Linked DNA regions of Homo sapiens: regions 1, 2, 3, 5, 6 and 7 are each reported to be linked to region 4. The links are microRNA targets in miRTarBase. Many come from high-throughput screens and were not tested one by one. Region 4 holds a microRNA gene; each other region holds the end of a gene's coding sequence.
What was found. Region 4 holds the annotated microRNA hsa-miR-4722-5p (GGCAGGAGGGCUGUGCCAGGUUG, at 1,697-1,719, shown strand). A microRNA usually pairs through its seed, bases 2 to 8, with sites in the 3' UTR of a target mRNA and lowers its output. Matches are read on the target gene's strand: a 7mer-m8 pairs with bases 2 to 8, a 7mer-A1 pairs with bases 2 to 7 and ends in A, and an 8mer does both.

Region 1: miRTarBase lists SNX22 as a target of hsa-miR-4722-5p. Seed matches in the 3' UTR shown: 7mer-m8 at 3,126-3,132, 7mer-m8 at 2,538-2,544 and 7mer-m8 at 1,544-1,550.
Region 2: the mRNA of ZCCHC4 is a reported target of hsa-miR-4722-5p. Seed matches in the 3' UTR shown: 7mer-m8 at 3,188-3,194.
Region 3: miRTarBase lists SLC19A3 as a target of hsa-miR-4722-5p. Seed matches in the 3' UTR shown: 7mer-m8 at 2,667-2,673 and 7mer-m8 at 3,127-3,133.
Region 5: miRTarBase lists CCDC120 as a target of hsa-miR-4722-5p. Seed matches in the 3' UTR shown: 7mer-m8 at 1,647-1,653.
Region 6: the mRNA of HAAO is a reported target of hsa-miR-4722-5p. Seed matches in the 3' UTR shown: 7mer-m8 at 436-442 and 7mer-m8 at 554-560.
Region 7: miRTarBase lists FN3KRP as a target of hsa-miR-4722-5p. Seed matches in the 3' UTR shown: 7mer-A1 at 3,220-3,226.

The regions. Positions count from the first base shown.
Region 1 is chr15:64,154,203-64,158,202 of GRCh38, reverse strand. It overlaps SNX22 (sorting nexin 22), which reads right to left. Exons shown (of 7, transcript NM_024798.3): 7 at 722-3,816. The coding sequence ends at 3,695. PPIB (peptidylprolyl isomerase B) reads left to right here. Exons shown (of 5, transcript NM_000942.5): 4 at 1,294-1,478; 5 at 2,058-2,386. The coding sequence ends at 2,180. Among named protein-coding and RNA genes, the nearest start is that of SNX22, 4.5 kb to the right of the region's middle. RefSeq lists enhancers at 3,757-3,916, 3,927-4,000, 3,792-4,000.
Region 2 is chr4:25,368,657-25,372,734 of GRCh38, reverse strand. It overlaps ZCCHC4 (zinc finger CCHC-type containing 4), which reads right to left. Exons shown (of 13, transcript NM_024936.3): 13 at 2,352-3,706. The coding sequence ends at 3,571. Among named protein-coding and RNA genes, the nearest start is that of ANAPC4, 6.6 kb to the left of the region's middle.
Region 3 is chr2:227,684,020-227,688,019 of GRCh38, reverse strand. SLC19A3 (solute carrier family 19 member 3) reads left to right here. Exons shown (of 6, transcript NM_025243.4): 6 at 447-4,000. The coding sequence ends at 623. Among named protein-coding and RNA genes, the nearest start is that of SCYGR5, 19 kb to the right of the region's middle.
Region 4 is chr16:88,713,952-88,718,033 of GRCh38, reverse strand. It overlaps MIR4722 (microRNA 4722), which reads left to right and starts at 1,697; the gene lies at 1,697-1,756. CTU2 (cytosolic thiouridylase subunit 2) reads right to left here. Exons shown (of 15, transcript NM_001012759.3): 10 at 3,807-3,898; 11 at 3,548-3,651; 12 at 3,297-3,447; 13 at 3,108-3,174; 14 at 2,928-2,986; 15 at 2,638-2,852. The coding sequence ends at 2,783. PIEZO1 (piezo type mechanosensitive ion channel component 1 (Er blood group)) reads left to right here. Exons shown (of 51, transcript NM_001142864.4): 45 at 823-1,011; 46 at 1,136-1,228; 47 at 1,303-1,475; 48 at 1,551-1,673; 49 at 1,757-1,836; 50 at 1,915-2,101; 51 at 2,180-2,696. The coding sequence ends at 2,429.
Region 5 is chrX:49,067,828-49,071,910 of GRCh38, forward strand. CCDC120 (coiled-coil domain containing 120) reads left to right here. Exons shown (of 11, transcript NM_001163321.4): 10 at 1-263; 11 at 717-2,027. The coding sequence ends at 831. PRAF2 (PRA1 domain family member 2) reads right to left here. Exons shown (of 3, transcript NM_007213.3): 3 at 3,334-4,083. The coding sequence ends at 4,042. Among named protein-coding and RNA genes, the nearest start is that of PRAF2, 4.1 kb to the right of the region's middle.
Region 6 is chr2:42,763,638-42,767,727 of GRCh38, reverse strand. HAAO (3-hydroxyanthranilate 3,4-dioxygenase) reads left to right here. Exons shown (of 10, transcript NM_012205.3): 9 at 51-133; 10 at 213-639. The coding sequence ends at 291. OXER1 (oxoeicosanoid receptor 1) reads left to right here and starts at 3,593. Exons shown (of 1, transcript NM_148962.5): 1 at 3,593-4,090. The coding sequence starts at 3,666. RefSeq lists an enhancer at 1-310.
Region 7 is chr17:82,726,838-82,730,927 of GRCh38, reverse strand. FN3KRP (fructosamine 3 kinase related protein) reads right to left here. Exons shown (of 6, transcript NM_024619.4): 6 at 2,915-4,090. The coding sequence ends at 3,757. Among named protein-coding and RNA genes, the nearest start is that of FN3K, 6.7 kb to the left of the region's middle. RefSeq lists an enhancer at 647-1,147.

The DNA.
Region 1 (4,000 bases), not on the chromosome of region 4:
GGGACAACCTGAGCCACGTGCAGAGGAAAAGGGGTCAAAAGAATAACTGAGGTCTGGAGAGAAAGATGACAAGGTATGTTGAGTTTAAATAGAAATGTCCATTTGAGTTTGGAACCCCTGTATCTTGAGAGAGTGGCTGGAGCTAAGGATGGAGATTTGGGGGTTTTCTGGATAACAACTATAATCAAAATCCCACAGTTGGCTCAAATGGGGGAGGCTTTTAGCCAGCACTCCAGCCAGGTCTCACTGCACATGTGGCAGAGTCCAGTCTCCCCAGCGTGGGGGTGAGAGGTGGAGCACAGGCAGAAGCACCCTGTCCCCACCAGCCAGAGTCTGGTCATTCTTGGTTTTCAGTCATCCTACCTGCTGCCCAATCAGAAACATCTTCCTGGTTGGCATCTGTCTAGGACAGTTTCCCAGCTCAGTTCCATTCTGTGGAACCACAGGATGAAGGTAGGTGCAGTGAGAAGGAAAAAAGAGTTTTGCATGCAAATATGTTTGAAAGGTGTTAGATAAAACAAAATGAAAATGACCCCATTTTTGGCTGAGTTTCTTGGGGCCTCATGCACAGTGTCAGTCTCCAAGGGGTGATAGGGAAAAAGAAGGGTTTCGGTGTTCCTCGTGGAAGCAGCTTTGGAACTAGGATCTCTGAAATGGCATAGAGATCACTCCGGATTGCCCTTACCATATCCCCAAGCCCCACGTGGACAGACGCGTCACACACACTCACAGCTGTCTTTTATTCCTGTTCATTCCTTGTTAAGAGGCTTTGACTCTCCAGAATCCAAGGGGCAGCCCCTCTTTTCTGCCCCTCCCCACACATCTCTGGCTGCTTTCTCCTCTGCAGCTATGCCTGTGTCTTTTGTGCTCATAGGAAAACAGGCTGGTCAGCCACAGCAGTCCTCCTTTTCTGGAGAGTTCCGACCCTGTTGACTCCCCTGCATCCTGCACGGCACTTCCCTCCACCAAAGTCCCTCCGTGGCAGGCCTGGGCCATAGCTAAGGGGAGCTGATAACATGCGCCTTATTTAAAAGCCACAAAACTATCTTCTCAAAGTAATCCTTCTGTGAGCTGTTCACCACATCAGCCTGGCCTGATGCCCCACTTGGCCTCAGTCAGCATGGCTTGGCTCTGAGGCCAGAAGATAGGAAGGACGCTGCTTTTATGTCCTTGTAGTCCACTCCAGCCTAGCCTGGCACAGAGGACAGGTTAAGCCCCCTCAGTCCTGGCCCCGAATGTCTGCTTGGTTTGGCGCAATCCAGCGCCCCTGACCTGCTCTGTCTTTTTTCCCAGGAAAGAGCATCTACGGTGAGCGCTTCCCCGATGAGAACTTCAAACTGAAGCACTACGGGCCTGGCTGGGTGAGCATGGCCAACGCAGGCAAAGACACCAACGGCTCCCAGTTCTTCATCACGACAGTCAAGACAGCCTGGCTAGATGGCAAGCATGTGGTGTTTGGCAAAGTTCTAGAGGGCATGGTGAGTTGTGGAAGCAAGGGCTACTACTGGGCAATCCTCACCGGGGATTCAACACAGACCCCAGGGCAGGAGCTCCATGTGTCCATCCCTTTCCCAAAAGGACCCAACCCACAGATGCAGCCCAGTGCTCCTGTCCAGAATAAACCCTGTACCTCCATGCCTCCAAGGTTCTAAATTCTTCCAGCCCCCTCAGAGCCCAGCCAGGAAGGCTGCACAACTGCCAGAGCCTCCCTCCCCTCCTTCACTCAGTGACGTGCTGGTCCCACCCCTGAGGTATACAGAGTGCAGCTGAACGCAATGTCCCTGAGAAGCCACATGCCCTGGTCACCCTCTTCCTCCTCCTCACCCTTGGCCCAACCTGGGTCTTACTTCAAAGGAACAAAATTCCTGTACCCCCTCGTCAAATCTGCATTCTCCCTGCTCTGGCCAGGAGTCTGTTAGAATTTTGGTGCCTCCAGTTTTGTGTGCTGTTGATCACTTGTGGGTCTTAGCCCTCCTGAGCCATACGCTGGGGCCTTTCTCCTGAGCGGTGGACCTCCTGATCCACCATGCCCTCCTGCTTCCACCTTTCTTTTCCAGGAGGTGGTGCGGAAGGTGGAGAGCACCAAGACAGACAGCCGGGATAAACCCCTGAAGGATGTGATCATCGCAGACTGCGGCAAGATCGAGGTGGAGAAGCCCTTTGCCATCGCCAAGGAGTAGGGCACAGGGACATCTTTCTTTGAGTGACCGTCTGTGCAGGCCCTGTAGTCCGCCACAGGGCTCTGAGCTGCACTGGCCCCGGTGCTGGCATCTGGTGGAGCGGACCCACTCCCCTCACATTCCACAGGCCCATGGACTCACTTTTGTAACAAACTCCTACCAACACTGACCAATAAAAAAAAATGTGGGTTTTTTTTTTTTTAATATATAATGTGTGGGCCTGGTTCTTGAGCCTGCAGCACCTCCCCTAGGCCTACATCCCAACATGCCTGCAACTCTCCTGTGGCAATGGGTGCCTGCCCCTTCCCTGGGATCCTGCCTGAAATTTTGACCCAGGAGCTACCCAGGAAAAGTCAGGCAGGAGCTTTTGCCCCCTGCTTCTAAACTTTGCCAGCTACTGGGCCTCCACATTTGCTCCCCTTGCCACCACCCTCCAGTCTATGTTAAGGGATGTATCTGTACTTTTTCATAGCCTACCTCTAAATTGATTTTTTTTTTTTTTTTTTTTTTTTGGTAGAGACAGGTCTCACTATGTTGCGCTGGCTGGTCTCAAACTTCCAGACCCAAGCATCCTCCTGCCTTGGCCTCCTAAAGTATTGGGATTACAGGCATGAGCCTCTGCACCCAGCTGACTTCTTCCTTTATTATTTATTTATTTTGAGACGGAGTTTCACTCTTGTTGCCCAGGCTGGAGTGCAGTGGCGCGATCTCGGCTCACCACAACTTCCGCCTCCTGGCTTCAAGAGATTCTCCTGCCTTGGGCCGAGCACGGTGGCTCACGCCCGTAATCCCAGCACTTTGGGAAGCCGAGGCGGGTGGATCACCTGACGTCAGGAGTACAAGACCAGCCTGGCCAACGTGGTGAAACCCATCTCTATTAAAAATACAAAAATTAGCCGGGCATGGTGGCGGATGCCTGTAATCCCAGCTACTCGAGAGGCTGAGGCAGGAGAATTGCTTGAACCCGGGAAGCGGGGGTTGCCGTGAGCCGAGATCGTGCCATTGCATTCCAGCCTGGGCAACAAGAGTGAAACTCCGTCTCAAAAAAAAAAAAAAAAAAAAAAAAGAGATTCTCCTACCTCAGCTTCCCGAGTAGCTGGGATTACAGGCATGCACCACCACAATGCCCGGCTAATTTTGTATTTTTAGTAGAGACGGGGTTTCTCCATGGTGGTCAGGCTGGTCTCGAACTCCTGACTTCAGGTGATCCACCCATCTTGGCCTCCCAAAGTGCTGGGATTACAGGCATGAGCCACCGCGCCTGGCTGACTTCCTCTTTTATTACTTATCTTCTTGACCCTGCCTTGGCTGTTGGGCTCTAAGAGCATACAAATTCTACCACCTCCAGCTACCAATGCGAGCCAAGTTCTGAGCCTTGAGTGGGAATGTGGCACAACTGGGCACTGGGTAATTAAGTCCTGGGTCCAGGCCAAAGGAGGACCCAGCCTTATATGGAGTTCATAGGACAGAGGCACATGACTTTCTTAGGAGGCAGCCAAAGGCCTCTGGACTGATCAGGGCATCGGTGGCAGAGGAGCAGGGTGACAGGCCGCCTTTGGCTGGGCTTTATCTGGGCTGATGCTGAAGCTGTAGAGGCCCTGGAGCACACCATTCACCACCACGTTGGGCAGCGACTCTGTGGGATAGAATTAAACAGGTCTGGCCTCAGACCTGCAGCTCCTTGAGCTCCTGCTCATGGGCTCAGCCCCCACTTGGGAGTAGGAGCCCCTGCCAAGGCAGCAGACAGCAGCTGTCCACCCCAAATGAAGCCTCCGCATTCCCAGGTCACATTCTTTTCACATCAGCTTGGTAAAGAAGTC
Region 2 (4,078 bases), not on the chromosome of region 4:
TGTTTCACTCTGATTACCGGTGCATGCAGCCCCTGTCACATACCCCCTAGATTGCTCAATCGATCACGGCCCTGTCATGTAAAATCTTTAGTGTTGTGAGCCCTTAAAAGGGACAGAAATTGTGCACTCAACAAACTCGGATTTTAAGACACTAGACTGTCGATGCTTCCAACTGATTAAAAGCTACTTCCTTCACTATCTTGGTGTCTGTGGGGTTTTGTCCACGGCTCATCCTGCTACAAGGCTACTAATCTTCACGCAGCACATCCCCACATTTAAAACTTCAGTTAGGGTGGTCCTCATATTGACTCTAAGTGCCTCCTAATACAAATCTGTTTCCCTTTTCAGTCCCTAGAAGAAACATAATAGAGTGGGTCCAGTCCGTATTTCAGGCATGCCTACCACTTCAAAGCCTCTAGAAAATTCCATGCTTACATCAAATTTTTATTGAGCACCAAAAAGGCACAAGATACACAAGAGCAGATGAAATGGGTGCTGACATTAAGAGACCTAAATCTTTGAGGGAAATAAAATCAGTAAAAATAATCACAGAATAATATGTGAAAGGCCTTAAATGTGGTATCAAACACCAAGGGGCCAAAGAAGGTTTCAGTATCAGGGACTCGTGGAAGATTCCCAAAAGAGAACGGAGTGGCCACATGGAGGGACATATTCCAAGCAGAAAGAACAGTATCGGATGAAAAGAATGGGGCATATGGAGTGATAAACTAGTCTAGGTACTGGACTAATTAGGAAAAAACATGAAATCCAGCCTACAAAAAGACTTTGTTTCTCATTAAATTTCATAATATAAGAAGAATGAAATTTAGCTGTATTTATTAAAAATGTCCTTTTAAAAAGCTTAGAAAATGTTATCTGTCAAATTTTAGGGATTTTCTTCTATTGCTATTTTGAGAAGGTATCTTAATGTTAAGATGTTCAGATTTCTATTAAGAACAAATGACCTCATCCCGCTTCACATTCTACCTCCCAGAGACACATTTTTACAGGCTACCAATTAGTTTATTCTCTGAAAAAGGAATAGAGATTAAGTCCTTAAAATTAGTATTAATTGAATATAAGTGTAAAATCACCAAATTTCCTATTTTTAACTTTCTAAGACAGTAATAAAGTTTTAAAGTACATTATTCCTGGCTGGGTGTGGTGGCTCACGTCTGTAATCCCAGCACTTTGGGAAGCTGAGGCGGGCAGATCACCTGAGATGAGGAGTTTGAGACTCGCCTGGCCAACATGGCGAAACCCAGTCTCTACAAAAATATAAAAATTAGCCGGGTGTGGTGGCACACACCCATAATCCCAGCTACCAGGGAGGCTGAGGCACAAGAATCACTTGAACCCAGGAGGCAGAGGTTGCGGTGAGCAGAGATCCCACCACTGCATTCCAGCCTGTCCAACAAAGCAAGACTCTGTCTCAAAATAAATAAGTACATTATTCCTGATTATAACTATTTCCTCAATTCTAAGATTTTTTTTTTTTTTGCATTTCAGTATTTCTGAAATCAGATGATCTAAAAATTAATTAATGAAGTATTATTTCTCTTCTCCCCCTGAAAAGCTATGATAAAATCAATGATGTATTTTATAATTGATGGTATCTTAACATTAAGGCAATATAGTGATGAGAATAACTGTTGGCCTTCAGAACTCAATTTTTCAGTAGTCATAGTCCCTCAGGTGTCTTAGTTTCAGAGGAGATTTCAATAGATTTTATCATGGAATGGTGAACACCATAAAGTCAGGCAATGTCCCTATCCTTGCTTGAATCAGAGAGGGGAACTCTCACAACGGTTTTACAAACTTCATATCTCACCCAGTCACCTCCAAATGTGCCCCTCCTATCATAGCCCTCCATGTAACAAAAGGGAGAAGAGCTTTCTGATGCTTATGAAGTCCAGGGGTATAACTCATCTTTTGACATCAACTGATGTACACCACTGCCACACTGATCTGGGCCACACTTGAGCATTCTACACCAGGCATCAGTCCTAACTTACCTGGAATTTAAATACCAGATAGAGTGCAGTTCCTCCACCCTTACTTACAGGGCTCTGCCTAACCCCAAACAAAGATGCCTTCAAATCTGCTCTACAGCAGTTGTTTGGAAACAAGAGAAAAGTCATTATGCAAATATAAGTCATTCAAAACAATTCAGTCTTAAGGAGACAATAACTAGCACAGAAACGGGGAGATGAACTGTTTGTTCTGGGAGTTCAAATTACTGCCTTCAATGCTTTGTTATCAGGCCAAAAGGTAATTACCATTAGACCCAGTAACAATCTTCATTGTTAACCTAACACACCAATGACAGAGGAGAACTGAGAGCCAAGCACTTGGGTCTCATTTAATTTAATCACAAAACAAACCTCAGGTATAGCTGTTATTCTCCCCATTATAATAATGATAATAATGAAGAAACCGGGGCTTTTAGAGAGTGACCTGGCCAAGATCATACAGCCAGGAAATATTAAGGGTAGGAATGAGGAGTTTAGTTTGGGCGTTTAATTACCAAACTATCCTGGCTTCTGCTACGAACTACTTTTACAAAGACAGAATCTTACTGCATAGGTTAAACGACACTGGAATGACAGAGCAAGTCGTAGTTCTAAACATCTCACTCATTCAACAAGCATTTAAGTGATTCTAGACCGTCAGAGGACAACTGCAAAAAGTACTTGAAGAATAAATATTTAATAATAATGTAATTATAATTATAATCTGTATATCTAAACAGTGCCTTTGTAAAAACCCTTTCCATCATCTTCAAATTCAGTCTAAAAATAATTGTACGCTATACTTTTCAAGTGGGGTTTAAACTATTGTTTCATATTTAACATAAAATATTTTCCTATTTAAATTAACATACTTTTATGTTCACGGTAAACAAACTGCATAGGTTTTCACTTTCATTTTCTTCTGACATCTTCTGCAAAAGAATGGTCTGCCCATTTTTTGGATAAAAAGGCTAGAATAATGTGACCGGAGCTGGGTGAGGTGGCTCATGCCTGTAATCCCAGCACTTTGGGAGGCCAAGGCAGGCAAATCACTTGAGGCCAGGAGTTCGAGACCAGCCTGGCCAACATGGTGAAACCCCGTCTCTACTAAAAATACAAAAATTAGCCAGTCGTGGTGGCATGTGCCTATAATTCCAGCTACTCAGGAGGCTAAGGCAGGAGAATTGCTTGAACCCGGGAGGCAGAGGTTGCAGTGAGCTGAGGTTGTGCCATTGCACTCTAGCCTGGGAGACAGAGCAAGACTCCATCTCAAAAAAAATGAAAACATAAAAATAGAACAATGTGACTGGGAGAGACTTAAAGTGAGGAAAAATGAATGCTGAAAGAACTAGTAAACTGGCTGAAGATGGAACAACTCCCCATGTCTCCAGAGAGGCAGATAAGGGACTGTAAACCAGCAAATGCCACCTGCCTGTTATCTAGCTCAGAAAGGTGCACACCTCTGGAAGCAGCTGAATTTAAGTCCAGTGTGGCACTTTCAGAAAATGGCATCAAAGGTTGGACCATAAATCTTTCTTATTCTCCAGTCACTGGACATTTAAGAGCCAAGATATTGATGGGCTCTTTCCCTCCTTTTCTTTCTCCTTGTAGCAGATGTATGATTCATGGATTGTCCTTTCGTGGTCTCCATTTTCATCTTATTACTTTTTCTTTGCTTCTGCTTTCTGACAGCTCTGGAAAACAAGGTGCTAAATTATTTCACAGAATGAGCACAGTGAATTATGTAATTATGTTGAAGTTTAATTAACTAGCTAACCAAATAAGAAAATAGAAGAAGGGAAAGAATCTACTGTATTGCAAGCATAAATCCTCAGTCTCCTAACCATAACAACAAGGGAAGAGTCAGAGGCCTAACCAAGCAAAATGTTTGAGAAAAAAAAATTCTTTAAAAGATGGTTACTATGGATTTAGAACAAGCTGTCCGGGGCAAACACACCACAGAGGTAAATGCAAAGCTAGTGAGATTGGACTTTTTAAAAAAGTTTTTTGTACATCTGTATTGCTCAACTCAGCACTTCAATCTCCAAATCCTTGAATTCCGTTTT
Region 3 (4,000 bases), not on the chromosome of region 4:
AGGTTTTGAGCAATAATTGCAACTAGGACAACATTTACATGGATAAGGCAGGTAAGAAGTAACCTCAATGCTTAAATTTATTCTTGGAGACATTGAATGTAGCATTGCACCAGCCTCCAAACAAAGACATAGAGACAGGTCAATGAGTTTTAGTGTTTTTTTGGGTTTGTTTTGTTTTGTTTTTTACTATTGATGATAGTAACTATGATTTTAACCCAAGCAACCTGCTCTAAAGCCAAGACTCTTAGTCACCGTATTGCTTACACCTTCTTACTTGATCTTGATTTCTTACTTGATAGGAGAGTATTGTTCAACCTAAATGACCCATATTAAAAACCTGGGTCTCAGTTACCCCATAATCCAAGCAAACCAACAGTATTAGGATGTATTATCATTGACATAGATGGTCATATTTTATATGTGGCTAATTATTTGTTTTTCTCCAGTTTTTAGTTTATGGGAGCTATTTTGCAGTAATTGCTGGAATTTTCCTAATGAGAAGCATGTATATTACCTACTCAACCAAATCCCAGAAGGATGTACAGAGCCCTGCTCCAAGTGAGAATCCAGATGTGTCTCACCCAGAGGAAGAGAGTAATATCATCATGTCAACAAAACTCTAACCTCATCGCAACAAACGCAACAGTGGCTTTCAAAGTTATGCAATAATAAGGAAAGATTTTGAGATGGGTGGCATATGTTTTGCCATAACTTGACATGCTTTGCAAATCTGGATTCCAATGGACCTTTCAAAACCACAACAAAACCTCAGTTTTAGATGAGTTCTCTATGTGACCAATTTTACTGGATGCAATTGACAGGACCCGTCATCATAATTAAACAACCCATATTGGGGACCCCCTGTGACTAGTAGCAGCTGGAAAATTCTGGTTTTTATCACTTGTAAAGACATGCAGATGGCGTGGAACCAAACCATGAGAAAACTCCAGCCATCCTGGAGTTGATATTCACCATTTGTGAGGAGAAATACTAACTGGACTGACCCTATTGCTAGGCTTAAATACTTATTTGATCTTACCAAAGAAGTCAACACATGGGACCTTTGTGTCACATGAACCATTTTCTTTCCTCTTCTATTAAGTGTATTTCTGTTTAAGTTACAGTTCTCTAAGAGAATTACAATGTTTGTCCCATTTCTAAGGGCTTCTCTTCAACTCTAATAACAGCATTATTCACGTTATGATTTGATAGTATTATTATTTAATTTTTTTATGATTATTTTCCATTTTGTGCTCTGAGTTTTGCTGTTGAAAGTCTCCCTCAAGAATAGCTTCAGATCCTCTTGTGTATTTGCAGAATACACAAGGTCATTTCCCAGTGGCCTGGGAGAGGCAGTGAGCCTTCTCTCCACCACCATAGACAGGTGTTAATGCATCTATGGGCCAGGTGCAGTGGCTCACTCCTGTAATCCGAGCAATTTGGGAGGCCAAGGTGGGAGTTTTGCTTGAGGCCAGAGGTTCAAGACCAGCCTGGGCAACACAGTGACACCTGACTCTACTAAAAAATTAAAAAATTAGCTGGGCAGCGTGGTGTGTGCCTGTAGTCTCAGCTACTTGGGAGGCCATGGTGGGAGGATGGGTTGAGCACAGGAGTCAGAGGCTACAGTGAGCTATGATTGCACCATTGCACTCCAGCCTGGGCAACAGAGTAAGACTCTCATCCCCCTCCTCCCAAAAAAGAGCACCTGTGTGGTGTCTGTCTAAAATAGGAAAACTTAAAGGAGGTTTCTAGAAGTATTAGAAATAAGAAAACACTGATGGGGGGAGTGGAATAAAACACCTGATTTTGTTTTGTTTTGGTTTTTGAGACAGTCTCGCTCTCTCACCCAGGCTGGAATGCAATGGCGTGATCTTGGCTCACTGCAAACTTCACCTCCTGAGTTCAAGCCATTCTCCTACCTCAGCCTCCCAAGTAGCTGGGACTATGGGTGCACACCACCACGCCTGGCTAATTTTTGTATTTTTAGTGGAGATGGGGTTTCACAATGTTGGCCAGGCTGGTCTCAAACTCCTGACTTCAGGTGATCTGTCTGCCTCGGCCTCCCAAAGAGCTGAGATTACAGGCGTGAGCCACCATGCCTGGCCAAAACACCTGATTTTTAAATGGTAGCAATTGTGCTAAATAAAATGTGTAAAAATTTTAAAGAGTTGTTAACATTTTTTGATGAATTCTGCTGAAAATTATCTGAACATACCTGTTTTTCGAAACTTCAAGAAACTTCAATAAGGGATGCATTGAGCAGTCTGACAGTGAGAATAAAGAATGCTGAGTCAAGATTTATATTAAGGCTGGAAGCTGTGGCTCACACCTGTAATCCCAGCATTTTGGGAGGCTGAAGTGAGAGGTTAATTTGAGGGTAGGGGTATGAGACCATCTTGGCCAATATAGCAAGACCCTGTGTCTAAAACAAACAAAAAAATTTTTAATTGGATTTTGATATGGTTTGGATCTGTGTCCCCACCAAATCTCACGTTGAAGTGTAATCCCCAATGTTAGAGGTGGGGCCGGCTGGGAGGCGACTGGATCATGGGTGTGAAGCCTTCATGAATGGTTTGGCACCGTCCCCTCAGTGCTGGTCTCATGACAGTGAGTTATCGTGAGATCTGGTAGTTTAAAAGTGTGTAGCACCTCCCCACTCTCTCTTTCTCCTGCTTTGGCCACGTGAAGATGCCTGCTCCCACTTTGCCTTCTGCCATGAGTAAAAATTCCCCGAGGACTCCCTAGAAGCAGATGTTGCCACGCTTCCTATATAGCCTGTGAGCTAATTAAACCCCTTTTCTTACAAACTATCTAGTCTCAGGTGTTTCTTTATAGCAATGTGATAATGGACTAATATGTTTCTCAAGTATACTCCTCTCCAAATCCCGAAATTCTTCACTGGACTAAGATCCAGCCCAAGAATCAATGCACTCACTTAGTGGAGAAAACTAATAACATTCCTACTTACATTAAAGGCAAGGAAGGAATGGCCGCTATTCTTTTTCTTCTTCTTCTTTTTTTTTTTTTTTTTTTTTTTTTGATAGAATCTTGCTCTGTCACCCAGGCTGGAGTGCAATGACGCAATGTCAGCTCACTGCAACCTCCGCCTCCCGGGTTCAAGCAATTCTCCTGCCTCAGCCTCCCGAGTAGCTGGGATTACAGGCGTGCACCACCATGCCCGGCTGATTTTTGTATATTTAGTAGAGACGGGGTTTCACCATGTTGGTCAGGCTGGTTTCAAACTCCTGGTCTCAGGTGATCCGCCCGTCTCGGTCTCCCAAAGTGTTGGGATTACAGGCTTCAGCCACCTCACACCCAGTCTATTATCCTTCTTTTTTAACTTATTATTCTGGAGGCATTAGGCATCACAATTAGACAAACAAGAAAAATCAGAGGTCAGAAATTGGAAAGGAGGCCAGGTGCAGTGGCTCACGCCTGTAATCCCAACACTTTGGGAGGCTGAGGCGGTCAGATCACATGAGGCCAGGAATTGGAGGCAAGCCTGGGCAACATGATGAAACCCTGTATGTACTAAAAACAACAAAATTAGCCGGGTGTGGTCCATGCCTGTAATCCCAGCCACTCGGTGGCTGAAGCATAAGAGTCACTTAAACCCAGGAGGCAGAGGTTGCAGTGAGTTGAGATTGTGCCACTGCACTCCAGCCTGAGCGACAGAGTGAGACCCAAAGTGGATTAAAAAATGCATTATGATTCCTTCACATATTCACCTATAACAAAATTAACTGCTAAAAAATGAGGAAGATCTTTAGTGACACAGAACTCTAAGAGCTCTACTATCAAGTGGAAAAAAGTCAAGCACCAAAATAATAATGAACGCAGCAACTCAGCATTTGTATAAAAAGGACAAAAATATCTGTATTGGCTTATATATGCGTATAACTTTTCTAAAAAGACAAATGAGGCCTGGCACGGTGGCTCATGCCTGTAATCCTGGCACTTTGGGAGGCTGAGGTAGGTGGATTGCTTGAGTTCAGGAGTT
Region 4 (4,082 bases):
TTCACTCACTGTAGCCTCTGCCTCCCAGGTTCAAGCGATTCTCCCACCTCAGCCTCCCGAGTAGCTGGGACTACAGGTGTGCACCACCAGGCCTGGCTAGTCTTTTGTATTTTTGGCCAGGTTCGTCTCAAACTCCTGACCTCAAAGTGCTGGGATGACAAGTGTGAGCCGCCACACCCAGCAGTTGGGTTGTTTTTTATTAGAGTTTTTTCTGTTTTTCTGCAGATACATTGGCTAGAAATGACTGAATTGGAAGAATTCTCTGTATTCTCTGGTTGCTAGAACCTTATCAATTAAAATTTGCAGAAAATTTCTCCAATTCTATGGACTGTCTCTTAAATTTTCTTGGTGTCTTTGGAAGCACAAAGTATTTATTTTGGTAATATCTGGTTTACTTTGTTTCCTTCGCCAAATCCAGGTTCATGAAGATTTGCCCGTTTTCTTCTAAAAGTTCTATAGTTTTAGCTCTGAAGTTTCGCTCTTTGATCCACTTTGAGGTAAATTTTGGCACATGGTATGAGGCAGGAGTTGCGTTTCATTCTCCTGCCTGGGGCGGTGCCTGCACCGTGTTGAAAAAGGTTGTCCGTTCCCACTGAACGGTCACAGCTCCCTTGTCTAAGATCAACGACCCCTGAACATGAGGGTTCCAACTGGACTCTTAGTTCTACTCCACTGGCCTGTGTCTGCCCACCATTACTACCGCTGTGCCATACTGAGGTCAGGCTGGGGCTTTTCTGGGCTGCTGGGTGAGCTGGAGAATGCGGTTGTGTGACCCGCAGGAAGGGCAGAGCTGAGCGTATGACCTGTGTCGTTCCCCTCCAGAAATACCCGCAGCCCAAAGGGCAGAAGAAGAAGAAGATCGTCAAGTACGGCATGGGTGGCCTCATCATCCTCTTCCTCATCGCCATCATCTGGTTCCCACTGCTCTTCATGTCGCTGGTGCGCTCCGTGGTTGGGGTTGTCAACCAGCCCATCGATGTCACCGTCACCCTGAAGCTGGGCGGCTATGAGGTGAGCATGTGTGGGTCCGCCTGTCCATTCCCATCCCCTGGGGGTTCTGGCCAAGGTGGTGCACCACCCCCAGCCGCTCCTCCACGCTCATCTTCGTGGCCCCGTGTCCCCGTGCCTGCCCCAGCCGCTGTTCACCATGAGCGCCCAGCAGCCGTCCATCATCCCCTTCACGGCCCAGGCCTATGAGGAGCTGTCCCGGCAGTTTGACCCCCAGCCGGTAAGTGGCCTCTGCCCTGTGAAAGCTGGTGTGGGGAGGCGGCTGCAGTCACTGAGGGTGTCACTTGTACCCAGCTGGCCATGCAGTTCATCAGCCAGTACAGCCCTGAGGACATCGTCACGGCGCAGATTGAGGGCAGCTCCGGGGCGCTGTGGCGCATCAGTCCCCCCAGCCGTGCCCAGATGAAGCGGGAGCTCTACAACGGCACGGCCGACATCACCCTGCGCTTCACCTGGAACTTCCAGAGGTTCGTCCTGGACTTGGGGCAGTGCCTGGGTGGGTGGACCCACTACAGTGGGTCACGCTGTGTTCCCACCCCCAGGGACCTGGCGAAGGGAGGCACTGTGGAGTATGCCAACGAGAAGCACATGCTGGCCCTGGCCCCCAACAGCACTGCACGGCGGCAGCTGGCCAGCCTGCTCGAGGGCACCTCGGACCAGTCTGTGTGAGTGAAGGGCCCGGGTGGTGGGCAGGAGGGCTGTGCCAGGTTGGCTGGGCCAGGCCTGACCTGCCAGCACCTCCCTGCAGGGTCATCCCTAATCTCTTCCCCAAGTACATCCGTGCCCCCAACGGGCCCGAAGCCAACCCTGTGAAGCAGCTGCAGCCCAGTGAGTATGGGCGTGGGGGTTGGGGGAGGCTAGAGAGGGGTGACCTGCGGCCTCAACGATCTTCTCCCTCCATCCCAGATGAGGAGGCCGACTACCTCGGCGTGCGTATCCAGCTGCGGAGGGAGCAGGGTGCGGGGGCCACCGGCTTCCTCGAATGGTGGGTCATCGAGCTGCAGGAGTGCCGGACCGACTGCAACCTGCTGCCCATGGTCATTTTCAGTGACAAGGTCAGCCCACCGAGCCTCGGCTTCCTGGCTGGCTACGGGTGAGTGAGTGGCTGGGGGGGCACCCCGCAGCTCGGGGGGCTCCGGGCGGCCCCAGGACTCACCAGCTTCCCCCGCAGCATCATGGGGCTGTACGTGTCCATCGTGCTGGTCATCGGCAAGTTCGTGCGCGGATTCTTCAGCGAGATCTCGCACTCCATTATGTTCGAGGAGCTGCCGTGCGTGGACCGCATCCTCAAGCTCTGCCAGGACATCTTCCTGGTGCGGGAGACTCGGGAGCTGGAGCTGGAGGAGGAGTTGTACGCCAAGCTCATCTTCCTCTACCGCTCACCGGAGACCATGATCAAGTGGACTCGTGAGAAGGAGTAGGAGCTGCTGCTGGCGCCCGAGAGGGAAGGAGCCGGCCTGCTGGGCAGCGTGGCCACAAGGGGCGGCACTCCTCAGGCCGGGGGAGCCACTGCCCCGTCCAAGGCCGCCAGCTGTGATGCATCCTCCCGGCCTGCCTGAGCCCTGATGCTGCTGTCAGAGAAGGACACTGCGTCCCCACGGCCTGCGTGGCGCTGCCGTCCCCCACGTGTACTGTAGAGTTTTTTTTTTAATTAAAAAATGTTTTATTTATACAAATGGACAATCAGAGGCCAGTCCCCCGTCCTTGCCTTCCGGCTCCAGTGTGGTGTACCAGGTGGCCACTGCCTGCTGTCCCGGCAAGCACGTCCTCACGCTCAGCTCTGGCCCGCCTCGTCGTCACTGTCCTCAATCAGACAGTCCCGGATCTCCTGCAAGCCCCAGGCCCTAGAGAGAAAGCTGCAGTGGGCACCAGCCCCGAGGCCCCTTACCCACGCGCCACGGCAGTGTGGGCCCCAGTACCTCTGTGTGCGGAGCTGGGCCTCAGCCAGGATGTACGGCGGCAGGGGGTCCAGTGAGGGCTGCAACAGAGGCCGGTGTCGAGGGGCCAAGAAACCTGCCAGCACCCCCTCAAGCCACCCACGAGGTGACGGCCTTCCCGCGTCCCCAAGCCCGGCCCAGGACAGGTGGGCACGTACTCACCAAGTCCTTCATGTTCACGCGGCAGCTGTAGCACAGCTGCTCCTCAATGCAGGCTTGGGGGTCCTCCCTGCGGGAGCAGAGCTGGCTGTGTGCCCACCTTGGCACCTCAATGCCGTGCAGTGTGGGGTAAGGACAGGTCCCCCTCCCGCCCCATGCAGCTGGCCATGGGTGGCAGGGACAGGGACTCACCTCCTGCAGGCCCCCTGGCCACAGCGCTGGGCCCAGCCCACCCCTGGAGAACAGCAGGGCCCCGGGGGTGTCCGGGTCTCAGTCAGGGGGATGGGTGACTGCATCTGGGAGAGACGCGAGGAGGTCTGAGCCCCAAAAGCCGTGGCACTGTCTGCAAGCAGAGAGGGGGTGACGGAGCCTGGGGCTGCTGAGCCCCCACACCCACTCCCTGGCTCCCTCCCCGCATCACCCCAAGAGCATGAAACACAGACCAGCGGCGTCGACGTCCAGGGCACACATGCAGAGGAGGCAGCGGGGGCCGGAGTCGCCAGCAGCAGGGCCATCCCGGGGGCCCTTCACCAGCTTCTCACTTGTCCTGTGGCCGGATTGTGGGAGGAGCAGGTGAATCACACGGGCTGGGGCTCCACCCTAAGCCCTGGCCTGAGCACGAGTGGTGAGCTCACCACCCGCACACACCCGCGCACAGCACACACCCGCGCACCCCCCGCACACACCCACACACACCCACACCTGTACACAGTGCTGACAGTGGAGGGGAACTGGGTCTGCAGCCTGAGGATGAAGGCCTCCATCAGCCGGTGGATGCTGGCCTTTTCAGGGGCCTAGGGACAATCAGATTGGAGGCTATGGGAAAGCCCAGAGGCCAGCCCCAGGCTGGGGCAGAGTCCCCAGGACAGGTGCCGTGGGTTCCACGCTGCTGGCCCACATGGGTCTGGCTTTGCTGCGACTGCTCAAGGCAGCCAGAGAACCCGCTTCAGCAGTGCACCCACTGTGGGGTCCTCCTGT
Region 5 (4,083 bases), not on the chromosome of region 4:
CCCCCACCCACCCGTATCCCCTCGGCTGGTGAACGCAGTGGCCACAAGAACCTGGCTCTGGAGGGGCTGCGGGACTGGTACATCCGGAACTCGGGACTGGCTGCGGGGCCCCAGCGCCGGCCTGTGCTCCCTTCCGTGGGCCCGCCACACCCACCCTTCCTCCATGCCCGCTGCTATGAGGTGGGCCAGGCGCTGTACGGGGCCCCCAGCCAGGCGCCACTCCCACACTCGAGGAGTTTCACGGCGCCCCCTGTCTCTGGCAGGTATGGGGGGTGCTTTTACTGATGGGTAGGGGTCTCGTAAGGCAGATGGCGAAGATATCCAGGCCAGGGAGTGGCTAGTCATGATAGCTAATGAATTGGACCATGAGGAAACTAGCTGCTGTGATGGCACAGGGTCACTCTACTGCACATGACCTGCATTAGTCCATGGGGTCCTGGTGGAGGGGATCTTGGGCACTGGTAGCAGCAATTCTTTATCAAGTTATAGGCTGAAGATGAGCCTTGAAGCCAGGGTGCCGGGAGGAAGGGACATCTCATGCCCCTTGCTGTTTTCTTCCTTTTTTCTCCATGCCCCAGAGCCTGAAAGTGCTGTCCTGTGCCTGCCTCCACCTCTTTAACGAGCCTCTTTTCCTTTCTTTTTCTGTGTCTTGTCTGTCTTTTCTTCTTCTTGTCTTCCCCGCCCTGTCCTCCGGATTCCTGCTACCCCTTCTAAAGATACTACGCGGACTTCCTGTATCCCCCGGAGCTGAGCGCTCGTTTAAGTGACCTGACGCTAGAGGGGGAGCAGTCCTCCAGTTCTGACACCCAGACCCCGGGGACACTGGTCTGACCCCTTCTGATATGTCCCTTGTTGGCCTGGGCACGATTCCAATCTGGGGAGCACACAGCTGACCTCGCTGGGCCCTGGGGTGTGGTTGCTCTCAGTCCTGAGCAGAGTGCGCCAACCTAATCTTCCAAGGCCCCTGGCTCCCCGTAGGCCCAGGAAGGTGTCTGACACCCTGCTTCTTCTCTCACACTGTGCTGGGGACTGGGGGCCCTCAGCTAGCTTAAAAGAGGGGGGATGATGTCATGGGGACCCCAAGCCCCTTCCTCCATTTATGTTTACAGTTGTGACTTAGGTATTCACTGTCTTCCTCCAACACTAGGCGTTTTACAAAAGGGAAACTGTGATCTCATCTGGTTGGGTTCATTCCTGTTCCCATGCCCAACCAGGTTCCATTCAGGAACCCCCTCCATAAAATGGACCATATCGGGTCTCAGGGCCATTTAGGGCAGCCAGGAGACTCCGGTGTGAACAGAAATCCCTGCCACGCATCGCCAGGGCAGTTGGGGCAGTGGGCTCTCTGCCCACACTTGGAAGGACTGCAGTCTGGGTGGGATGCCTGAAAGAGCCCAACCCCCTCTGTGCCCATGGCCTCTGCCCTGACCACCCCCAGTCAGGAGGCCCCACAGGAGGGGCACCCGGTAGATGCCAGTGAAATCCTCAGGTGAGGTCTGCCTACGGGCCACGGGCCACTCACCACTCACACCTTCCTTGGCTTTCCTTCCACCCTTTTTTTTTTCTCGAGACGGAGTCTTGCTCTGTCACCAGGCTGGAGTGCAGCGGCGCAATCTCAGCTCACTGCAACCTCTGCCTCCTGGGTTCTCCTGCCTCACCCTCCCGAGTAGCTGGGATTACAGGCACACGCCACCATGCCCGGCTAATTTTTGTATTCTTAGTAGAGACAAGGTTTCACCATATTGGCCAGGCTGGTCTTGAACTCTTGACCTCGTGATCTGCCCGCCTTGGCCTCCCAAAGTGCTGGGATTACAGCCGTGAGCCACTGCACCCAGCCCCAATCCACCACTTTTTAAGCAAACCCACACAAGTTGTGTTTTCTATGATACCTGTCTGTGATTTTCGGAGCTGGGGGTTCCCCTACCCCCTTTTCCTGGCGTTAAGCTTTTCTTTTTATACCAGTGGATCTGGACCCAAGACATTACCCACACTGGAAGGGGATTTGTATAATAAATGTGTAAACTGAACCCATGTGTTGCTGCTCTGTCTGCCTCACCTTGAGGACCCACACCTCTAGTCAAGACCAGATAATATATTTTTGCAGGAAAAAACATACCTTGGGAATAGCCTGTGATAGTGTCATCTGTTTTGACTTTACTTGCTTTGTGATGTGGGGCAACTTCTTTGCCTGTCTGCACTCAAATTTCTAGCCAACCTCAAACAATAACTCTTGGTAATATAAATGGTGATAACAAAGACTCTGTCCTTAACCTCCCTATACATTTTTTAAAAATTTTTATTTTTTTGAGACAATGTCTCACTCTGTTGCCCAGGCTGAAATGTAGTGGCGCGATAACGGCTCACTGCAGCCTTGACCTCCTGGACTCACAATCTTCCCACCTCAGCCGCCTGAATAGCTGAAACTACAGTTGTGCACCACCATACCCGCTAATTAAAAAAGAAAAAAAAATTGTAGGCCGGGTACGCAGTGGCTCACGCCTGTAATCCTAGCACTTTGGGAGGCCAAGGTGGGCAGCTCACGAGGTCAGGAGATCAAGACCATCCTGGCTAACAGTAAAGCCCCGTCTCTACTAAAAATACAAAAAAAATTAGCCGGGCGTAGTGGCACGTGCCTGTAATCCCAGCTACTCGGGAGGTTGAGGCAGGAGAATCGCTTGAACCCGGGAGGCAGAGATTGCAGTGAGCCGAGATCATGCCACTGCACTCCAGCCAGGGCGACAGAGCAAGACTGTCTCAAAAAAAAAAAAAAAAGTAGAGATGGGGGTCTCATTATGTTGCCCAGGTTAGTCTCGGACTCCTAGGCTTGAGCAGTCCTCCTGCCTCAGCCTCCCAAAGTGCTGGGATTGCAGGCGTGAGCTACCATGCCCAGCTTTTTGAGACAGGTTCTCACTGTTGCCCAGGTTGGAGTGCAGTGGCACAATCACAGCTCACTGCAGCCTCTACCTCTTAGGCTCTGGCCATCCTGCCACAGCCTCCCAAGTAGCTGGGACTACAGAAGCACACCACCATGCCCAGCTAAATTTTAATTTTTTTGTAGCAATAAGAGTCTTGCTATATTGCCCAGGTTGGTCTCAAACTCCTAGCCTCAAGTGATCCTCTAGTCTCAGCCTCCCAAAGTGTTGGAATTACAGGCGTGAGCCACTGCACCTGTCCTTCCCTGTGCTTTAATGCTGATCCAGAGGTCATAAGTTCAAGGAAGGGCCTCAGAGATCACCTCTTCAGCCCACATATTCAGGAAGAGTCTAGCAGAATTGAAAAGTAGGCCACTTCTGTCCTTTGAAATGTACAAGGACTTTACCCAGGAGGCTCAAATTGGCATGAGAGATGCAACAGGCTTTATTGTTGCAGCAACACTAACATATACGCCCCATTCCCTGCTGAGGCCTGTCCCCACCTCACCCCTTGGTTGTCGATGGTGTGGAACATTGGGGTGAGGGGCAAAATGCCTAAGCAGAGCTGGAGGGAGGCAAATGGGACTGGTGAGGGTCGGGATCACCTGGACCAGGGGTCCAACAGTCAGGATACCCGACTCCATCCACACAGGGGCATGGAACACTTGGGTTCTGAGTTCAAGATTTGGCAATGTCTTGACCTGGGTTGGAAGGTAGGGTGGGGTCTGGAAAAGCTTTGGTCCAGGGTTCAAGATTTGAGAGTGCCTTGCCCCAGGCCCCAGTTTGGGGATGAGCATGGAGAAGGGTGGATGGGAGTGTCTCTGGGTTCACAATTTGAAATTGGCCATGGATGCTCTGGCCTGAAGCCAGTTTTGGGGCTGGATGTAGGTGGCTCTTGGTCCTGGGTTCAAGGCTGGGGAAGACTCTTGTCCCTAGGTAATGGGGGCTGGGTGTGAGGGATATCTTAGTTTGGGGCTGGCGTGGGGGTAGGGCGGTCACAGATGTCCTGTTTTGTTTGGGCAGGGGGCTCTAGGCTCCTGTTTTAAGTGCTGGGAAAGGGCTCTGGGTCCCAATTATGGGCTGGGGGTGGGGTGGTATTCTCCAGGTCCTGGGTACAGATCCCAGGGGCCTAGGATCCAGCCTCCTGCTCTTGTCCCAGTGCCTCTAGTAG
Region 6 (4,090 bases), not on the chromosome of region 4:
GTGATGAGGCCCAACAGTCTCCATTTGATTCTCCTGCTCCTCTTCTCCAGGAGGGCTCCTCGGTGGTGACAATGGGGGGACGGCGCCTGAGCCTGGCCCCTGATGACAGCCTCCTGGTGCTAGCTGGGACCTCGTGAGTACGCAGGGAGGGCTTTCCCTGGGATCCTCAGGGTCCAACTCTGTGTGATCCCTGCTCATCTGTGTGTCCACAGGTATGCCTGGGAGCGAACACAAGGCTCTGTGGCCCTGTCTGTGACCCAGGACCCTGCCTGCAAGAAGCCCCTGGGGTGACCCTCTTGCCATGGCCTGAAGCAGCCACAGGTGTGCCAAGCACCCTCGAGTGCCATCCCTGCCAAACAACTCTCCCAGCCCCCACTACCTCTCTGTGTACTGCCGCTGTGTCCCCCACAGACCTGCACATTGTTGTCACCCACCCTCCTGCCCTTCTCAGCCCAGATGCCATGCCCCTGGGCGGGCAGCAGCTCCCCATCTTCTCTGGCAGACTCAGCCCACTGCCTTGCCAGTCTTGCCAGGTGGTCTACCCCCGGCCCCGCTCCTGCCCATTCCTCTGTCCCTGCAGACTCAGTGCAGCACTTCCACACCAAGAAGGCCCTCAATAAAGGCTTCCTGAGGAACGCACACCTGGGGGTCTGCCGCAGGCAGTCATCACTGGCCTTCCCATGTGCCCCCCAGGACCATGTGGTGTGTCTGGGGCATCAGGGCACCAGGTGACCATGGACGTGTTGGAGGGTCTGTTATTGGGCATCCCTGTTTGTGGATGGGCATTCTTCACTGTGTGTGTGACTTGATCCACGCATGCTCCATGCCTGGTCCTGGGAGCACGGCTAATGTCATCTCTCCACTTCCTTCTCTGTTCTCATTTATTCTTTTTACTTTTTTTTTTTTTTTGAAACAGGATCTCACTGTCACCAAGGCTGGAGTGCAGTGGTGTGATCAGAGCTCACTGCAGCCTTGACCCTCCTGGCTCAAGTGATTCTCCCACCTCAGCCTTCTGAGTAGCTGGGACTACAGGCATGCACCACCACACCCTGTTAATTTTTTTTTTCTTTTTTGTAGAGATGGGGATTTCACCATGTTGCCCAGTCTGTCTTTTTACATAACTTTAAAACACTAGCATCTGTTGAGTTTTTTTCCAATAACAGAAGTCATCTGTGCTAACTATAGAAAACCCAGAAATACACAAAATCCCCCACCCAGAGCTAACCACTGTTAATACCTAAAGACTATGATCAGCCTGGAGAGGGGCATGAAGTTGTACCAGGAGCTCAGCAGTGTTGGTGGGGGTGTCTGGCCTTGTGTCCCCTTCCCTCCCCTGTCATGCACAGGTGCCCTGTTCAAAGACTCCAGAGGGACCCCTGAGCCTGCTATGGGTGTCTAGGGATGCTGGAGGCCTCAGAGGCACCAGTGGGAAGAGACAAGAATGTGGAACCTGCAGCGGGCGCAGCTCAGTTTCCTGGGACTTCCGTGAGAAGTCAATGAGGGCATGCACATGAGAGTGACAGATCTGGACAGAACAGGTCCCTGCGTGGACTCAAAGCTTCCTCTAGAAAAGAACACTTGACCCCTGTCTCCCTCATCCCCAGCCCAGTGGCTCACTGCCTTCCTACACTCCACTGGGAGCAGAGAAAGACCTGCCTTTGCTGAAAAGGCTACTGGCCCTAAGAGACATCGGGACCTTCAACCTCCTCGTCACCCCTAAGGGCTTTCCTCTCCTGCAAGCAAAGAAAAAACACCATCAGGCTCCTTCAAACACAAATGGTCCAGGATAGGCACAGGCAGAGGCTCCACGCGGCTCGTTCCTGGCCTGTAGCAATGCACTGCTCCGTGCAGGACCTGAGAAGAAGACATAGAATGTTCCAGGGAGGACCCAGGTCAGAATACCGATGGCCGTGAAGAGAAGAGTTTACTCTCATATGCAGGGCAAGCTTAATCCAGAGAGAAAGTCATGAAAATTAGATCTGTTTTTGTGAACACTCGCTCTGTCCCAAGGAATCCCCTAGAAGTTTGTTTTTTTTTTTTTTTTTTTTTTTGAGACGGAGTCTCACTCTGTTGCCCAGGCTGGAGTGCAGTGGCGCGATCTCAGCTCACTGCAAGCTCCGCCTCCCAGGTTCACGCCATTCTCCTGCCTCAGCCTCCCGAGTAGCTGGGACTACAGGCACCTGCCACCACGCCCGGCTACTTTTTTTGTATTTTTAGTAGAGACGGGGTTTCACCGTGTTAGCCAGGATGGTCTCGATCTCCTGACCTCGTGATCTGCCCGCCTCGGCCTCCCAAAGTGCTGGGATTACAGGCTTAAGCCACTGTGCCTGGCCTATAAGTTTTTACATAAATTATCTCATTTTATCCTCACAACTCTCCAAGAAGGTGGTAGTGCCTGATTTTACAGATCAGGCTCAGAGAGGTTTGGAAATAGGGCAGCTCTGTTTCCAACCCAGGCCTGTCTGCATATGGAGCTTAGGCTGGGCCTCACCACCCTGCTTCTCCCAGGGATGTTTGCCCTCAGCCTTGACCAAATGGGAGCCCAGGGCAGCCAAGAGAGGCCAGGGGCCACTGTGCCTGGGACACAGAGGCCAGGCCACACATGGCAGACTGCTGACCCCAGCCAGTTGGCAGTGATGGGGTCAGGCCCTGGAGCCTGGAACCAGCACCTCCCTTGGCCCTGCTGTCCCGGGTTATCAGGAGCCTGAAGCCCTCATCTCCACCCACAGGACCAGCCCATGGGCTCATGAGAATACCTCACCATGGGACAGCTGGACTTGTACCTTGTCTGGAGCTAGCCCCAGCCTCCCACTCCCTATTCCGCAGTGAATGCTAATGGGGGCAAGGAGTGGAGTGGACAAGGAGCCATGGGGAGACACAGACAGGGAAAAATCAGGATTGTTCTATTTGCGGGAGAAGCCCCCAGCTCCCCGTGCCATGGCAGTAGAAATTTGGCAGGGGCGTCCCCGTCCATGGGGCCTACTTCACCGTGTACCCGGACTTGGGACCATCACAGACTTCGGAACCATCAGGAACCTGGGAGCAACTGAAAGCTGAACTACAGTGGGCTTTCAGACACACAGCAGGCTGGCGGAGCACAAATAGGACTGGTTCCCTCCAGGCCACCAGCAGGGCGGTGGAGGTCTTCACTGACTCCCTGCCTACCTCTCAGGACAATGTCCTTTTGGCTCCACAGTCCCTGAAGCCAGAGCTGGTGGGGGCAGGGAGGCAGCCACCAGCCTCTATATGTAGTGGAGGAGGGGGTGTCCAGGGAGGGCTGCATGATCCTGAGAGCCCCCACCTCACCCGGCTGGACTATCCTCCCACTTCAGGGTTTCTCTGGGCTTCCATCTTGCCCCTGCTGAGCCCTGCTTCCTCCTCTACCAGCAGCACAACCCCCAGGCTGGGCTCAGAGACCTCATGTGGTGGGATCACTCAGTACCCCGAGGCGGAGGGAAGGAGGGAGGGCTGCAGGGTTCCCCTTGGCCTGCAAACAGGAACACAGGGTGTTTCTCAGTGGCTGCGAGAATGCTGATGAAAACCCCAGGATGTTGTGTCACCGTGGTGGCCAGCTGATAGTGCCAATCATCCCACTTTGCCCTGAGCACTCCTGCAGGGGTAGAAGACTCCAGAACCTTCTCTCAGGCCCATGGCCCAAGCAGCCCATGGAACTTCATAACCTGAGCTCTCCATCTCCCTCTCTCTCCTCCTCTGTTCTCCCTCCCTCCTTCTCTCCCTCACCCTCCTCTGCTCCCTCTGCCTTTACCACTGTGGGGGGGTCCTCTGGAGGGCCCTGCCACCCCACCTCTTCCTCGCTGGTGTCTGCCTTCCTGGCACCAATCCTGGCCCTGGAGTTTGTCCTGGGCCTGGTGGGGAACAGTTTGGCCCTCTTCATCTTCTGCATCCACACGCGGCCCTGGACCTCCAACACGGTGTTCCTGGTCAGCCTGGTGGCCGCTGACTTCCTCCTGATCAGCAACCTGCCCCTCCGCGTGGACTACTACCTCCTCCATGAGACCTGGCGCTTTGGGGCTGCTGCCTGCAAAGTCAACCTCTTCATGCTGTCCACCAACCGCACGGCCAGCGTTGT
Region 7 (4,090 bases), not on the chromosome of region 4:
ACATGCATATGGTCTCTCATGGACAGAATAATCCAGAAGAATCAACTCTGAGTAGATGCAAGGGCATCTATTGTGCCTGAAGCCTATAGGATTTTGATAGCCCTTTATGAAAAAGTGTGTATATATAAAAATATATAACATGCATATATTATAATAATACAAAATTAGATATTTTAGAATAAGCATTGCATCAACTTACAAATTTAAAATGCTGACACGGGGCCAGATGCGGCGGCTCACACCTGTAATCCCAGAACTTTGGGAGGCCGAGGTGGGCGGATCACTTGAGGTCAGGAGTTCGAGACCAGCCTGATCAACATGGTGAAACCCCATTTCTACTAAAAATATAAAAATTAGCCAGGTATGGTGGCAGGTGCCTGTAATCTCAGCTACTGGGGAGTCTGAGGCAGGAGAATCCCTTGAACCTGGGAGGCGGAGACTGCAGTGAGCCGAGATCATGTCACTGCACTCCAGCCTGGGTGACAGAGTGAGACTGTCTAAGAAAAATTAAAATTAAATAAAAAAGAAAATAAAAAATAAAAAGCTGACACATACCGCAGCATTGCAAAATCTGAAAACTACCCACTACTGTTTACCATTTCGACACCCCCGAGACACCCCTCCTGATGGTTCCATTTGGCTGCACTCTCAGCGACGGCCTCTCACAAGGTGCAGCCCGGCAATGTCATCGAGGAAGAGAAGGCCACCGCCTCTGGAGGACCGAACCATCCTTCCCGTCAACCACTTGGGGAGGCTCTCGTCACTGGTGATGTTGTGCTGATGCAGAATGACGTCCAGGGTCCCGGGCACCTGATGCTGTGCTGAGCAGAACAATGATGTCCAGGGTCCCAGGCACCTGATGCTGTGCTGAGTGGAACGATGATGTCCGGGCCCCGGGCACCTGATGTGCTGACACAGAACGATGATGTCCCGGGTCCCGGGCACCTGATGCTGTGCTGAGTGGAACGATGTCAGGGCCTTGAGCCAAGCGGCACACGCGCCGTCGGGATGGACCTACCCGGCAGGGAGGTGAGCGGCACAGGTGCTGTCGGGATGGACCTACCCGGTGGGGAGGTGAGCGGCACAGGTGCTGTCGGGATGGACCTACCTGGTGGGGAGCCAAGCGGCACACGCACCGTCTGGCAGGGAGGTGAGGGGCACAGGTGCTGTCGGGATGGACCTACCCGGCGGGTAGTCGAGCAGCACAGGTGCTGTCGGGATGGACCTACCCAGTGGGGGGAGTCGAGCGGCACAGGTGCTGTCGGGATGGACCCACCCAGTGGGGGGAGTCGAGCAGCACAGGTGCTGTCGGGATGGACCTACCCAGTGGGGGGAGCTGAGGGGCACATGCGCCGTCAGGATGGACCTACCCGGCAGGGAGTCGAGCAGCACACGTGCCATCGGGATGGCGCCGCTTTGGGACGTCCCTTTTCTTGGGAACACTTACCTTCTTCCCAGGGTCAAAGTAACAAGCTGCAGTCCTGGCCAACGGGAGCAGGTCCTGTCAGGTTGGAAACTGACCACACTCACGGTCCTTCCTCACTCCACACAAAAACCAGCATTCTAAAGGAACTCGGTTCTGTTCTGCCTTCTGCTGAGGGGCCCTGACTTACAACAGAAACAAGCAAACAAGACAAGTAATCAATCCATCCCCTCCGGCCCAGCTCATGACACCCTGGGTGACCCCTCAAACACGGGTGTTTGCCAAGTTCACCAAGTGGCTTCTTCCCCCAAAGGTAATTCTACAGCTACTTTCATTCTCCCTTTAATGTCTTCCACAGGGTGAGGAAGAATGGCAGCTAGGCTGCACCTCTGGTCAAATATCACAGACAGTTCTTAGGCTAGTCCTGCTCTTTGAAGCTCTGAGCTATCCTTCTACCCTAACAAAAAGGCAAGGTTAAAAAGAGTTTTTTTTAAGAAACAATAGTTGGGTCAGGGATGGTGGGTCAGGCCTGTAATCCCAGCACTTTGGGAGGCCAAGGCAGGCAGATTCCTTGAGGCCAGGAGTTCAAGACCAGCCTGGCCAAGATGGCAAAATCCCATCTCTACTAGAAATACAAAAATTAGCCAGGTGTGGTGGCACACACCTGTAATCCCAGCTACATCGGGAGGCTGAGACAGGAGAATCCTTGAACCCAGGAGGCAGAGGTTGCAGTGAGCTGAGATCGCACCACTATACTCCAGCCTGGGTGACAGAGCAAGACTCCATCTCAAAAAGAAAAAGAAAAAAGAAACAGCTGGGAGGCTGAGGCGGGTTGATTGCCTGAAGTCAGGAGTTGGAGACCAGCCTGGGCAACATGGTGAAACCCCGTCTCTACTAAAAATACAAAAATTAGCCACTGTGGTGACACACCGACTACTCCAGCTACTCAGGAGGCTGCGACATGAGAATTGCTTGAGCCCAGAAGGCGGAGGGCAGAGGTTGCAGGGAGCTGAGATCGCACCATTGCACCACTCCAGCTTGGAAACAGTGAGACTCTGTCTTAAAAAAAAAAAAGAAAGAAAGAAAGAACAGTTGGGTCAGGCATGGTGGCTCAGGCCTGTAATCCCAGCACTCGGGAGGCTAAGGTGGGAGGATTGCTTGAGCTCAGGAGTTTGAGACCAGCCTGGGCAACATGGCAAAACCTCATCTCTACTAAAAATACAAAAATTAGCCGGGTGTGGTGGTGCACGCCTGTAGTTCCAGCTACTCAAGAGGCTGAGATGGGAGGACTGCTAGAACCTGGGAGTTTGAGGCTGCAGTGAGCTATGATCATGCCACCGCACTGCAGCTTAGGCAACAGAACAAGACCGTCTCTAAAAACAACAACAAAAACACTAGTTGTACCTGTTTGTCACAAAATATTACAAGTTTTTCAGCAAACAACTAAGATATTGAATTACAATAAATGAGGGAAATATACAATCTTGTACGTTATCGAAACCACTGGAAGTTTATTCAAATTTTTGTGCAAAGGATTTATTAGCATCAATGCCATTCATGAAATATGTCTCTTTACTACAACAGTGAAGGAAGGAAAAATATGAGTTCAGCATGTATTTTAATGTTGCAAAGGAATGACAACTCAGCAAGCTGTAGAAAATGGCAGAGGAGACGGGGTAATAACAGAAGCAATGAAGACTCCTGGATGTACCCAAGGACACCCTATGGCCAGCAGCTTGGTTTCTCCCAGAATCAGTTTACAGACTTGCTCAGCCTGCGGGAGGGCCCAGGGATCATGCAGGAAGAAAACGGAATACGCTTGATTCTGGAATTGGTCATTTTAAGACGCTTTTAGTAAGATGGTTTCATGTCTACACCCAAGTCTTGCCAACCAAGAAGCATCAACGTGAACAGCTCAGAGACATTCCTGCACAGGAGAGCAGGGAGGAGGCAGTGGAAAGGTACCTATGAGCAGCAGTGCCCGGGGGCGCTGGCCACCTCCCTGCGCACCGGATACCCTCCCCCGCACCCACAGGGGTTCACTTACAGTTTCCCCACCTTGCAGCAGCAGTGAGGCTCAGAGTCACCCACACTCCATACATCCCTCTGCTCATACCCTGCCTGTAGTGTGGCTCCGTCTACCTACAAAGCCCCACAAAGTGGACAACGCTGGGATGACAAAACCTTTCCTCTTAGATATTATATACTTTGCAAGGCTTGGAAATAAGCTACTGCATTGGTCTTAAGCTAGTCCAGCATGTGAAGAAACAAGAATTTGCCCAGAAGAGGACTGTGGAGAAACCTCTGAGGCCTCCTTCCAGAGTAAGGCCCGCTCACTTGACCAGATTCCTCATGATGTTCAGGGAGGATCCTCTGTACCCCGATCCAAAATGATTCCAGTGGTTCAAGTAGTGAAAGAGCTGATACAACTGAAGGCGCTTCTCGAATCCTGGGGCCTTGGGGATTTTGCCGTGGTAGGCGGAGTAAAAGGAGCTGCTAAAGCCCCCAAACATGCCAGCTATTGCCAGCTCATATTCCGAGTGGCCGTAGAAAGAAGCTGGGTCAAAAATCACCGGCCCAGAGGAATCCTCTGCTACGTTTCCACCCCAGAGGTCCCCGTGGAGTAAGGCTGGGATGATCTCCAGGTCACGGAACAGGTCAGGGATC